2 linked regions of the Homo sapiens genome follow. The protein of the gene in region 1 purifies or fractionates together with the protein of each later gene. This does not show direct contact. Each region holds a gene or a part of one and is shown in the gene's direction. Other genes may lie near its edges.

Region 1 (7,030 bases):
AAAAAAAAACAAGTTTTGTGTGATGGAGTGAGGGACAGGGAGGGCATCTCCCAGAAGGTGACGTCTGAGCTGAGACCTGAACAGCAGGTGTCTGTTGTGTAAAAGATCTGGGCTTTCTAGACAGGAAATTGCAAGATCAATGTCCTTTTTGGATTGACACCTTTATTGTAGACAGCAATTCTCAAAATATGTGATGTGTTTAAAAATCACCTGGAAGATTTATTAAAAATACAATTTCTGACACAGAGTCTATTACAAAATCTGCCTAACTTCAAATTTTTAGACAATTTACTAATGATGTGCCTGTAGTCTAAATCATTTAATATAAGGCACAACTTAAACTTTTTTTTTTTTTTTTGAGACAGAGTCTCGCTGTCTCCCAGGCTGGAGTGCAGTGGCACGATCTTGGCTTACTGCAAGCTCCGCCTCCCGGGTTCACACCATTCTCCTGCCTCGGCCTCCCGAGTAGTTGGGACTACAGGCGCCTGCCACCATGCCCAGCTAATTTTTTGTATTTTTAATAGAGGCGGGGTTTCACTGTGTTAGCGGGGATGGTCTCGATCTCCTGACCTCGTGATCCTCCCGTCTCGGCCCCCCAAAGTGCTGGGATTACAGGCGTGAGCCACCGCGCCCGGCCACAACTTAAACTTTTTAAAGGCAAATTGACAGTTACTGCATGTGCTCTAAAAGGAACAGACTTCTCTTAAATACAATAAAGTTTATTTTTCACTTATTGACAGTTTTCTTTAAAGAATAATTTGAGGCCAAAGCATTTTCAGACTATTTTTTCTTTTTTTATACTTTTTTTTTTTTTTTTTTTTTAAGATAGATAACGGAGTCTTACTCTGTTGCCCAGCCTGATCTTGAAGTTCTGGGCTCAAACAATCCCTCTGCCTTGGCTTCCCAAAGTACTGGGATTACAAGTGTGAGCCACCTTGCCCAGCCTCAGCCTGTTTTTTTCATCTTAGCTTAGTTTTCCATTAAGACAGCTTTTGGTCAGTAAACATTGTCAAGGGGAGAACACTTTATATTTTATCATTAGCCCAAGATGCTGGTTTTCAGATTAACATATTTGACAAGGATCTATCTGCTGCTTCCCTTTTGCCCCCGACTCTAATTTAGCTGTCTGACTTCTGTCCTTGTCACTCTCCTGACATAAGTTCCTGTAGGTGATAAGTGGCCTCTTCATTCTCATTTTTTCCTTCACTCAACACATGTACAGATTGTTAATGTTGCTGTGCTGGGCATTGGTCCTCTTTCACCTTTGGCTGCTGGCCTTAAAGCACAGTCACAGATTCACTTTGAAAGAGACCTTAGAAGTCTTCCAGTCTGGTCTCCAAAAAAATATCAAATAACTTAAGCTTTGCATAAATTGCATGAGCTCAAATTGTTGTTAGTTATTTTCGGAGAGGGTGTGGGGTCAGGGTGAGGGAGAGGCTTCCTAACATTGAGATGAAATCAGCCTGTGGTTTTTGGAATTTTTTTTTTTTAACCATTTCTAGGATAACAAAGACAGCTCTTCATATATTTCAGGGCTGCTAAAGCGATTCTTCTGACGTTAAGTTCTCCAGGCCAAACATTTCCTGTTTTTCCAATCATTTGTCTTAAGACATGGTTTTTCTAGATTTTTTTTTTTTTTTTTTTTTGAGCCAGAGTCTCACTGTGTCGCCAGGCTGGAGTGCGGTGGCACAATCTTGGCTCACTGCAACCTCTGCCTCCTGGGTTCAAGCAATTCTCCTGCCTCAGCCTCCCAAGTAGCTGGGATTACAAGCACACACCACCATGCCCAACTAATTTTTGTATTTTTAGTAGAGACGAGGTTTCACCGTGTTGGCCAAGATGGTCTCGATCTCCTTGTGATCCACCCGCCTCGTCCTCCCAAAGTGCTGGGATTACAGGCGTGAGCCACGGTGCCTGGCCAGCTTTTCTAGATCTTTAATGATCTTAGTCACCCTCCTGGAGAGGCACATAGTTTAGAATGTGATGTACAAATCAGGTTTTGTTTGTTCTTTTTAATAGCATATTATTCCTAGATATGAGCACTATTTCTGTGAATAAAGTTTGGGATAGGTTGTTAGCTTTTGTTGAAATTCTTACCAAAGAAATGCACCTTTAAAAATGAACCACTTTGGGAGGCCGAGGCGGGCGGATCACGAGGTCAGGAGATCGAGACCATCCCGGCTAAAACGGTGAAACCCCGTCTCTACTAAAAATACAAAAAATTAGCCGGGCGTAGTGGCGGGCGCCTGTAGTCCCAGCTACTTGGGAGGCTGAGGCAGGAGAATGGCGTGAACCCGGGAGGCGGAGCTTGCAGTGAGCCGAGATCCCGCCACTGCACTCCAGCCTGGGCGACAGAGCGAGACTCCGTCTCAAAAAAAAAAAAGAACGATTATTAAATTAGTTCTCCTCTATACTGTACTATGGAATTGACTTTTTAAAAATTCAGTTTATGGCTGGGCATGGTGGCTCATGCCTGTAATCCCAGCACTTTGGGAGGCTGAGGTGGGTGGATCACCTGAGGTCAGGAGTTTGACACCAGCTTGGTTAACATGGTGAAACCCCGTTTCTACTAAAAATGCAAAAATTAGCCTGGCCTGGTGGCATGTGCCAGTAATCTCAGCTACTCAGGAGGCTGAGGTGGGAGAATTGCTTGAACCTGGGAGGTGGAGGTTGCATTGAGCCGAGATCACGCCATTGCATTCCAGGCTGGATGACAGAGCAAGACTCCTGTCTCAAAAAAAAAAAAAATCAGTTTACATTTTAAAAATGACTCATTTATGCCACCAATATAGTCACCCTTCAGTATCTGTGAGAGGTTGCTTCCAGGACCCCCATGATACTAAAATCTGAGGATGCTGAAGTCCTTGTTATAAAATAGCTTTGTATTTGCATATGGCCTAAATGCTCTTGTATACTTTTTTTTTTAATTGTTTTTTTGAGACAGAATCTCACTCCATCATCTAGGCTGGAGTGCAGTGATGCAATTTTGGCCCACTGCAAACTCTGCCTCCTGGGCTCAAGCGATTCTCCTGCCTCAGCCTCCTGAGTAGCTGGGATTACAGGCACCCGGCACAATCCCAGTTAATTTTTGTATTTTTAGTAGAGACAGGGTTTCACCATGTTGGCCAGGCTGGTCTCGAACTCCTGACCTCAAGTGATCCGCCCGTCTTGGGCTCCCAAAGAGCTGGAATTACAGGTGTGAGCCACTGCACCCAGACCTCTTGTAGACTTTAAATAATCTCTAGTTATAATACCGTATACAATGTAAATACTATGTAGAATTGTGATATTGTAGTTTTAAAAATCTATTTTTTGTTTTATTGTTTATTATTTTTTTAGACAGGGTATTACTGTTACTCAGGCTGGAGTATAGTGGCATGATCACTCCAGCCTCAACTTCCTCTGCTCAAGAGATCCTCCCATCTCAGTCTCTTGAGTAGCTGGAACTTACAGGGATGTGCCACCATGCCTGGCTAATTTTAAGAAAAATTTTTTGTGGAGATGGGGTCTTACTATGTTGCTGTGGTCAGTCTTGGACTCCTGGGTTCAAGTGATCTTCCTGCTTCAGCTTCCTAGAGTGTTGGGATTACAGGTGTGAGCCACTGTACCTGCCCTGTAATTTTTAATTTTTTTTTCCCCTGAATATTTTCTGTCTGAGGTTGGTTGAATCAGAATTTAAAACCCATGGATGTGGAGGGTCAGCTGTATTTGAAAATGGATACAATATACCTAAGTGCCTAAGCACTGAAATTTCTTACTTTCAGGATAACCACCTTATGATGAATGCAGTTGCCCATTTTCTTGAAGACTTTTTCTTGTGGTTTTTTTCTTTCTTTTTTTTTTGAGCCGGAGTCTCGCTCCGTCGCCAGGCTGGAGTGCAGTGGCGTGACCTCAGCTCACTGCAACCTCCTCCTCCTGGATTCAAGCGATTCTCCTGCCTCAGCCTCCTGAGTAGCTGGGGCTACAGGCGCGCGCCACCAAGCCCAGCTAATTTTTGTATTTTTTTAGTAGAGACAGGGTTTCACTATGTTGACCAGGATGGTCTTGATCTCTTGACCTCGTGATCCACCCGCCTCGGCCTCCCAAAGTGCTGGGATCACAGGCGTGAACCACTGCGCCCAGCTCTTTAAGACTTTTTCTTATCCCAGTGCAGAGGTCAGGATTATTCCCGCATTTGAGTGCACTTAGAGGAGATAAGGAATTTGTCTCAGATTGCGAGCCAGTAAATGGGGGCTGTTAAAACCACTAGGTTGTTTCAAACTCATCATTCTGACATTACAGAGATCTTGCTTAGTGTTGATGGCCCTAGCCAATGGGTTAGTTATCCTTTCCAGTGTGTTTGGTCAGCTGCAAATCTGGATAAGCGTGTCTCCTCCACTTTGTCTGTGTTTACCAGTGGAGACCTCCCACCAGGTGGACATAAATGGTTCATTCTTTTGTGCTAATTGGGTGCCGTAATCCAGCCCCTTGGGAATCTGCCCACCCACACAAGGATGTGCTCAAGATTTTCAGGATTCTTTCTCTCTGCATTCCCTGAAGAGGAAATAATAAAGGAGAAAATAAAATCCACCAGTTTGGTAACCTTCCCAGAAAAGGAAATGAAGTTGGTGTGGCATGACTTGTTCTTAACGAGCTTTCTTTTCTTTTTTTTTTTTTTGAGACGGAGTTTTGCTCTTTTTGCCCAGGCTGGAGTGCAATGGCGCAATACTGGCTCACTGCGAACTCCGCCTCCCAGGTTCAAGCAATTCTGCTACCTCAGCCTCCCAAGTAGCTGGGTTTACAGGCATGCACCACCACGCCCCTCTAATTTTTTGTATTTTTAGTAGAGATAGGGTTTCACCACATTGGTCAGCTGGTCTTGAACTCCAGACCTCATGTGATCCACCTGCCTCGGCCTCCCAAAGTGCTGGGATTACAGGCATGAGCCACATGATTTGGTTCACAATTTAAAATCCGTGCTTTTGGGGAGACGTGACAACTCTGAATCCTGGAAATAGCAGTTTGAAAAGGGATCTTGTTTGAATTTTTGACAACTTAAGACTGAGTCTGGATTAATTTAGAGTTTCCAAAACTACCACTGAACCTAGAATTTGGGGATATTTGACATTCAGCTTCAGAACTAGGATCCCACATTTAATAGTGCTTAACTTCAGATTTTCTGTTTTACTTTTTTTTTTTAAAGGAGTCTTGCTCTGTCACCCACGCTGGAGTGCAGTGGCACAATCTTGGCTCACTGCAACCTCCACCTCGGGCTCAAGCGATTCTCATGCCTCAGTTTCTCAAGTAGCTGGGATTACAGGCACGTGCCACCATGCCCAGCTAATTTTTGTATTTTTAGTAGAGACGGGGTTTTGCCATGATGGCCAGGCTGGTCTCGAACTCCTGACCTAGGGTGATCCACCTGTCTCCACCTCCCAAGTGCTGGAATTACAGGTGTGAGCCACCTCACCTGGCCTAAATTCAGTATTCCTTAATGTTCTTTTTCTGAAGACAATCTGGACTTTTGCCTTTTTATAGTACCATAACATTTTCGCCTAAATTGCTCATTTGTATGTGTGTTTCACCATTACTAGAATATAGAGAAATTGGCCAGGTGTATTGGCTCATGCCTGTAATCCCAGTACTTTGGGAGGCCAAGGCAGGTGGATAGCTTGAGCTCAGGGGTTTGAGACCAGCCTGGGCAACATGGTGAAACCTTATCTCTACTAAAAATACAAAAATTAGCCAGGCGTGGTGGCATGTGCCTGTAGTCCAGCTACTTGTGAGGCTGAGGCAGGAGGATTGCTTGAGCCTGGGAGGCAGGTTGTAGTGAGCTGAGATGATGGCACTGCATTTCATCCTGGGCAACAGAATGAGACCTTGTCTCAAAAGAAAAAAAAAAAAAGTATAGAGAAATTGACTTGAGTGCTAGTTACAGGGCTGTGTACACTTATGATTTGTGCACTTTTCTCTATGGTATACTTTAAAAGTGGCTTTTAAAAATGTAGAAAAGTCATCTTCCTTCATGTCTTTGGAAAATTATGCTAATTGTGTTGGTGTTATTAACATTCTATATATTTCCATCTTTGAGGATTTATCTAATACATAGTTGGGCAGGGTTTAATTCTGAGAGATTTGAAATACACTGTCCTAAAGGGTATAGAAGAGAGTTGCCAGGTGGGGCGTGGTGGCTCATGCCTGTAATCCCAGCACTTTGGGAGGCCAAGGAGGGCAGATTGCCTGAGCTCAGGAGTTTGACACCAGACTGTGCAACATGGTGAAACCCCATCTTTACTAAAAATACAAACAATTAGCCGGGCGTGGCAGCGTGCGCCTGTAGTCCCAGCTACTCGGGAGGCTGAGGCAGGAGAATCGCTTGAAGCCGGGAGGCGGAGATTGCAGTGAGCTGAGATCATGCCATTGCATTCCATCCTGGTGACAGAGCGAGACTCGGCTCAAAAAAAAAAAAAAGAGTTGCCATTAATTTAAAAAAAAGTTTTAAGAGTCTGAATTGATGTACTGTTGTTAATATATTAATGTATGATTGTACAGACCGTATTAGAAAAGGAAAAAAAATCAGATACTTTAATGTACTCATTATAGATGTTACTCAAGTGTCATTCAGGGATCATACCTTTTAAAGTTACTCTGATACTTTTCCGTTACCTTCAACTTGAAAGCACAAGAGGTTTTGCAGGCAGAGATATCCATGGTCCAATCTGGTTCCTGTAAACATTCAACAAATTATCTGGACGTCTACTATGTGCCAGGCATTGATTTAATCAGTGAACAAAACATGCAAAAATTCCTGCTCACATGGAATTTACCTTCCAGTAGATCTCAAAGTTCCCTACTCTACTAATCACTGGTATAACCTGGAAAGAATTTATTGTTGGTTCAACATAGCTAAGGAGTGGCATGAAGTTCTGTAGCTGATGTGGGAAGTACCTTGCCAGTGTCTCCAGCACTGGGTTTTCTAGAATAATCCTCAAGCTTTATAGGTTAGGGGGTTGTGTGTTTACCACATCTTGCTGAGACTTGTCTTTTTCCT
Region 2 (7,030 bases), on another chromosome or scaffold:
CTAAAGACAAGAGATGGTGTTGCAGTTTAAGTATTGGAGGGGACAACCTGAGGATCTAGCAGTTGGATTATTAAAGAGAGCAGTGATTAGTTGATTTACTTTTACATGAGTTTAACAGAATACGTTTATAATACATTTTAGATATATGGCTTTTACTAATCAGAATGAGTTTGGAAACCTTTTTCAAAACCCTTGGTTGTCTTTTAATGCTGATAACTAAATTATTAGCCACAAGATACAGTTATGGCCCATCCTGGTTTCTCTGTTATCAAGGTCATCTTTAACTTTTCCCAAGAGGGGTTTATACCCAAGAAGCTCTGAGGTGGAGGTCCTGATCTGACAGGACTTAGTTATTCACTGTTCTTTCTTATTACGTATGTGTCACTTTTTTTTTTTTTAAAGGAAAATTAGGACCTGTTCCAGGGGGCCTTTTTTTTAAAAGCCAGTTTAGAAATGAGTTTTAAGGCAGATTATTGGTCAGCCTCAAAAGTCAAAAAGATTTATGCTGATTTCAATTGGAATTATAGAGATACTTTTAAAGTCACAGCCAATTAATTTGCATCTCTTTGCCTAATAGGTTAGATTGAAAAAAGAAGATGGAAAGAACAGAGTAATTAGGCATGTAGGTTTACTAGCTTTCACTTTTAAATTTGGTTATTAAAACATGGAATTAACTAAATGTAGTTTAAAAGTTAACTTTCTGTTTTGTACTTCTAGTAAGAAATTGTATTATTTTCAAATTTAAGAAAATACTGGTAAAACTTTAAGATAACTGGTAAAATAGATACCAGTTATCTTTAAGATAACTGGTAAAATAGATACTGGTAAAATAGATAAACAAGGGCACTTGTTATCCAGAAAACTTAATATAAAATATTCAGTGTCATGTAAATGTCTTCTCAGTCTTTTTTCTTTATAAAGATGTGCATATAATTGATATTAATAGAATTTCTGGTGCATTTGCTGTACCTTGCGTTCTGTGATGAGGTGAAAAGTTACAAAGATCAGCATAGAAAGTAGGTATTCTGCAAAGGATCAAAACTATACACCAAGTGCAGTTAATTTACCAGAAAATGTTATTTTTCTAGTGGAAACATTTTAGAAAAATCAACCAAGTTTACTAGAAAGGAAGGATCCAAGGGATTTTATAGTAGGTTTAATTTCTTTTTTTATCAACTGGCATTAGGAGGCATTTAAGATGTTAAGATAAAATATTTTATCTTTTTTTTTACGTTTTATTTTATTTTATTTTTATTTTTTTTGAGACGGAGGCTTGCCCTGTCGCCCAGGCTGGAGTGCAGTGGTGCCATCTCCACTCACTGCAAGCTCCACCTCCCGGGTTCACACCTTTCTCCTGCCTCAGCCTCCCGAGTAGCTGGGACTACAGGTGCCTGCCACCACACCCGGCTAACTTTTTTGTGTTTTTAGTAGAGAAAGGGTTTCACTGTGTTAGCCAGGATGGTCTCAATCTCCTGACCTCGTGATCCACCCACCTTGGCCTCCCAAAGTGCTGGGATTACAGGCATGAGCCACCATGCCTGGCCCCATTTTTATTTTTTTAAGGCAACATATTCTTGAACATGGTATCAAAATTGAAACCACAACATAATCAATTTTGTTTTGTTTTTCTAACACTAACCATTGGTTATTTCAGATTTACAGCCTTATAAATATGCAGGATACCCCATGCTTATTCGGACTATAACAATGGAAACTTCAGATGACCTCCTTTTCTCAAAAGAATCACCATTGTTGCCTGCGGCTACAGAGCTAGCTTTCCATACTGTCAACTGTTCAGCCCTCAATGCTGAAGAGCTCAGAAGAGAGAATGGACTAGAGGTAATACGGAGTGACCTTTGTGCTTTTTAAGCCAGTTTACACACATTATATGACTCTTGGCAGTGAAGAATTCAGCAAGTACAAATGCAGATTCTTTAATTTATTTCAGCAGATAACACAATATTTTCCATATTCTTATACCAAATTAAAGGTAGAAATGGAGCTTTATTTCACAATGTGAGTTGGAAAGTATTGGGTTCAAAACCGATAATGGTAATATTGTTTACAAAGTAGCTTATTAGAAATGCTTAAAAGGAAACTTTTAGGAGTCCTTTGTTTACTATTTATTAACAAATGTTGATCAAACATTTATGTATCAAATATTTAACATTAAAGGGTTATTTATATTTTATTACTGCTAGAAAAGGCCTTTCAGACTTGAAGTCAAAATGGAGAGTTAATAGCTGACTTCTTCCTCTGCAGGTGTTACAAGAGGCATTTAGTCGCTGTGTGGCTGTCTTGACTCGTGCTAGTAAACCAAGTGACATGTCAGTACAGGTGAGGCTAAAACCTGTGGTTCCAAGAAAATTGCACTAGTTCAATGGTTCAGACTTTAACATATCTGAGAATCAACTGGAGGGCTCATTAAACTGTAGGTTGCTGAGCTCCACCCCACCCCAAGTTTCTGATTCAGTGAGTCTGGGGTGGTGGCCTGAGAGTATGTTTTTATAACAAGTTTCCAAGTGTCATTGATGCTGCTGGTCTGTGTATCACACTGTAAGAAACTGTACTAAAGCACTTGTGATCTGTTGGCTTACGTTTTCTTTCTTAGAGAATAGTTTATTGAACCCATATGTTTCCATTACCCAGCTTAATGCCATTCTTGTTTCACATATCTTCCATCCCTCACTCTCCTATCTCTAGTATTTTAATTGGCTTAACATTTAAGGTTGTAAGATAGGAAATTCATCAGGAGTTCATTAAGAGCTTTGTAGAGCGTGTCTTTCTATTTGACCTTTTGCTTATGCCAGCAAAATTCAGAATATAAAACGAGTACTGGCTGTTGAGTTCCATCCTCTATTTTGAAGTCCGTTGTGTAAACAGAATTGTGATATTCTGCTATGTTAATAAACTATACAAAATTACCTTAATCCAGAGGCCAGCAAACTTCTAAAATAAAGGTCCAGGGAGTAAATATATGAGTCTTTCAGGCTTCATACAGTCTCTGTTACATTTTCTTTTGTGACTTTTTTACAGCCCTTTAAAAATCTAAAAACCATTCTTAGCTCTTTGGCAGTACAAAGACCATGGTCAGTTTGGCCCATGGGTTGTAGTAGCTGTGGTTTGCCAACTACCCCAGCATTTATAGGAAATCTTAATGAGAAAGACTAGTGATCTAGTAAAGACATTCTGTTTAATTTTGGAACATTGTATATACCATTAAGCATTATTCACAAATTTCTGCTGGTTTGATTTCTATGTGTTAAATAAGGAATGCCTATGTGACTCTACTGGTTTTTTTGCTCTGTTGTGTTGTCTGCAGGTGTGTGGATACATAAGTAAATGCTACAGTGTGGCTGCTCAGTTTGAGGAATGCCGAGAGAAGATCACGGAAATGCCTAGCATCATCAAGGATCTCTGTCGGGTACTATATTTTGGCAAGGTAGGGTTAATCTTTAATGCTTTCTAGATACAGACAGCAAAGTGTCTTTTTGTCAACTAGCCAGTTCCTAATGTATAAGCACATTGTTTTCCCAAAGTTATTTGTAAGTAAAATTATTTGGATTTCTAAAAGCATTTTTCACAGAAGCCTTGCTGTAAATGGAGGCTTTGCTTCTAGGCTGGCCTACAAAGAAAAAGACTAAAGTGATACATCTAAAGGGAAGTGGGTTCCATCTGAACATTAGAATGAGTGGCAGGGAGAAAAGAGAAGCCTGTAATAAATAAGTCTTTTAAAAGCAAAAGGCCAGCCCGGTGTGGTGGCTCACGTCTGTAATCCTAGCACTTTGGCAAGCCGAGGTTGGCAGATCACTTGAGGTCAGGAGTTCAAGACCAGCCTGGCCAACACTGCAGAACCCTGTCTACAAAAAAATACAAAAATTAGCTGGGTATGATGGCATGCGCCTGTAATCCTAGGTATTCGGGAGGCTGAGTATTTGGCTGAAGAACAAGCAACTCCAGAAAATTCAACCATAAGGAAAAGTTTAGCTGGCATGCTGACACCCTATGTTTCTGTGGCTAGTGTGACTGAGATATATGCTTCAGAGGTAGCCTGTGCCACTACACTCCAGACTGGGCAAGAGAGTGAGACTCTGTCTCAAAAAAAAAAAAGAAAAAAAAACAGGGCCATGTAAAACCTGAAAACTAGAGAGTTCGGCACTGCTTGGTGGGAAAGGCTTTAGAGATCTGAGAACTTACTATTTCCTCCCAATCCAGACCTGCTGAGGAAGGTTGACTGTGGGTAGATGAGATAGATGACTGGGAGGGAGAGAGAAATGTCTTAAATAACTGGGCAGAGTGAGAATTGTCTTGAATAAAACAGGATCGAGATGCTGATCTAGTACTAAAGTATCAAGAAGTGAGGGAATTGATGAAAATATCTCCTCTACTATATCTACTTAATGTCCTTAGAAGTATTTGATTACAGAATAAAAAACTGACATAAATAAATCTTTTAACAACTGCACAAAATATGTCGTTACATTTAAGATCACTAGCGTGTAAGTTGCTATTGATGCCATGTCACTATTTTTAAAAATTAAAAATACAAGAAGTGAAACAGGAAACTATTCCCAAGTCTTCTGACATTAGCCTTAAAGGTAGTAATTCTGGTATCTCGTCATGAGGTCACTTTTAATTTTAGGCTTTAAAGGATGTAGGATTCAGATTTAAATTGGAATTGAAAATGTAAGAAGAGGTAAACATTTTACAAAATAACGTGGTTGGCTTGACATACATGCACAACCAGTTCCTCTTGGGAGCTTTTTTTTTTTTTTTTAACTCTGTAACAACTAATGCTCTCATTTTTATTCTCTCAGAGTATTCCCCGCGTAGCTGCTCTTGGGGTAGAATGTGTCAGTTCTTTTGCTGTGGATTTCTGGCTACAGACACACCTATTTCAGGCTGGAATTTTGTGGTATCTCCTTGGTTTTCTGTTTAATTATGACTACACACTAGAAGAGAGTGGCATTCAGAAAAGTGAAGAAACAAACCAGCAGGTAACTTTAACATTGCTTTAATATTGAATTTGAACCCAAACCTTAGGTTGGTGTTAAACTAATCCAAACCAAAGCTGCTATCCAGAGTCCCCAGAGATAAATTGTTTTTCAGGAAAATTAGGTTTTTTGCTTTTTAAACCTAATCACTTACTTACAAAACTTTTAGTTGTAATTGCTTATGCTTAAAGGATTCCAGGCAAGGGAATTTGCAATAGCATATACTGGACATAATTTAATAATTTCTTAATTACTCAGAGTCAACTTTATGATGGCAAAATTATGGTTGTGTAACACAGGACAATATAATGTTACCATCAGGCAGTTGAGGCTAGCTCCCCTAAACACTTGAGTACTTGTCTGATTTTTATAGATATTTTTCTGTCTCTTCTATGTGCTCTCATTTATTGCTCATATTGTAAATGTGTGCTTCTAGCAGGCAGGGCTGCCTACCTATCCCCTACTCCCCACATTACCACCAAATGTGCTTCTTCCAGTTGTCTGTGAGATATACTGCATTGGGTATAAGTTAGTACATAGATTCTCCTGGTCCTTCTTATAAATAAAAAACAAGCCCCAACACATAAACTTTCTGATGTTTACCTCAGTGGTAGGTACTCTTGTACCCTTTTGTTGGTTGACTTTTTACTCCTTAAATATGTTCCATATAGTGTGATTCTGTAAAATTATAGTATTACCTATGTAAGATAACAGATCTACTTTAACAACTTAATTTTTTTTATAACAGGAGGTAGCAAACAGCCTTGCCAAACTGAGTGTCCATGCTCTGAGTCGCCTTGGAGGGTATTTGGCTGAAGAACAAGCAACTCCAGAAAATCCAACCATAAGGAAAAGCTTAGCTGGCATGCTGACACCCTATGTTGCTAGAAAACTTGCTGTGGCTAGTGTGACTGAGGTATGTGCTTCACAGGTAGCCTGGGTTTTAATCAATAGTGCAAGATCCTTTAAGCAGTAAAGTAGTACAATAATATTGATCTAGGGAACCTAAAAATTAAGAACGTTCACATGTTTGTTCTCTCAAGCAAGAAATTCACTTTATAATGGATTGATGCTAATGATGTCAGTTCTACAAGTCCAGTTTTTGCAAGGGCAAATTAACTTTGTTTCTCAGCTGTGGAGCCTATCATAATTCTTACCAACCTTGAGTCACAAAGGGACAGGACGAGAGAGTGAAGTTGGAATGGTGTTTCACAATGGCAGACTACTGGGAGACAGGAGACCCAGAGTCTATTTCAAGCTATTTATTGTAAGCCATAGCTTATTCAGACACAGGGTTAAAATCCTGAAAGTAAATACATACATGCACATATACATGTATATGTATCTATGTACATACATAGATGCATTACAAAAATCAGTATGACATGATAGATCTCCCAACCTCTTTAACTTCTTTTGCAAGGATTATTGAGAAATAATCTGAGAATGTAGCACTAAAGAATTTGATAAACTATAGAAATCAGTTAAACAGGTTACTATTATCCTTTAATTATAAAAAAAAAAAGAGTACTAAAAGACATTAAAATAAATGAAGACACTAGATCCTATTTTTGGTATAACAAAATAAATGGATTGATAGATTTGTACCCATATGTTAACTGTAATTATTCCTGAATGGCATAATTATAGGCAGTTTTTCTTTTGTTTTCGCTAAGGATGAACTGTGACTTTTGTAAGTGAAAAAATCCTCAGGTTTCCAAAGTATTTTTACAACTTTTAAACAGGTTATTTGTTTTTAATCCAATGTGATTGAGTCCAATTTTCAGTGCTTGCCATGCTTTTCAGTTCCCATGTGTGAAAGGCAGGAGCTCTAGATGCTACTGGTTTTTTTTTTTTTTTTTAATTTTGTTTTTGTTTTTACTATTTTTCCTAAAACACTAGACGACCAGGGACCACTCCTGATGTTAGTTATTTTCCTGGACTTTTTGCTCACCAATGTGATACATTTTGCTGACTGAAAGCATTCTCTTCAGAAATGCCAACAAGTTTGGGATTAACCTTTATAGCCACCCCCA

The links. Proteins that work in one complex are often made in the same cells at the same time.
Region 2: the proteins of OCLN (region 1) and DNAJC13 purify together in Homo sapiens (affinity purification with mass spectrometry; 2 studies listed by BioGRID and IntAct, with this or other methods). This does not show direct contact.

What each region holds. Positions count from the first base shown.
Region 1 is NC_000005.10:69,495,761-69,502,790, forward strand, and holds part of OCLN (occludin), read left to right. Parts: intron 1-7,030. UniProt on the Homo sapiens protein: May play a role in the formation and regulation of the tight junction (TJ) paracellular permeability barrier.
Region 2 is NC_000003.12:132,497,472-132,504,501, forward strand, and holds part of DNAJC13 (dnaJ homolog subfamily C member 13), read left to right. Parts: intron 1-1,654; coding exon 1,655-1,839; intron 1,840-2,262; coding exon 2,263-2,337; intron 2,338-3,322; coding exon 3,323-3,442; intron 3,443-4,817; coding exon 4,818-4,997; intron 4,998-5,742; coding exon 5,743-5,910; intron 5,911-7,030.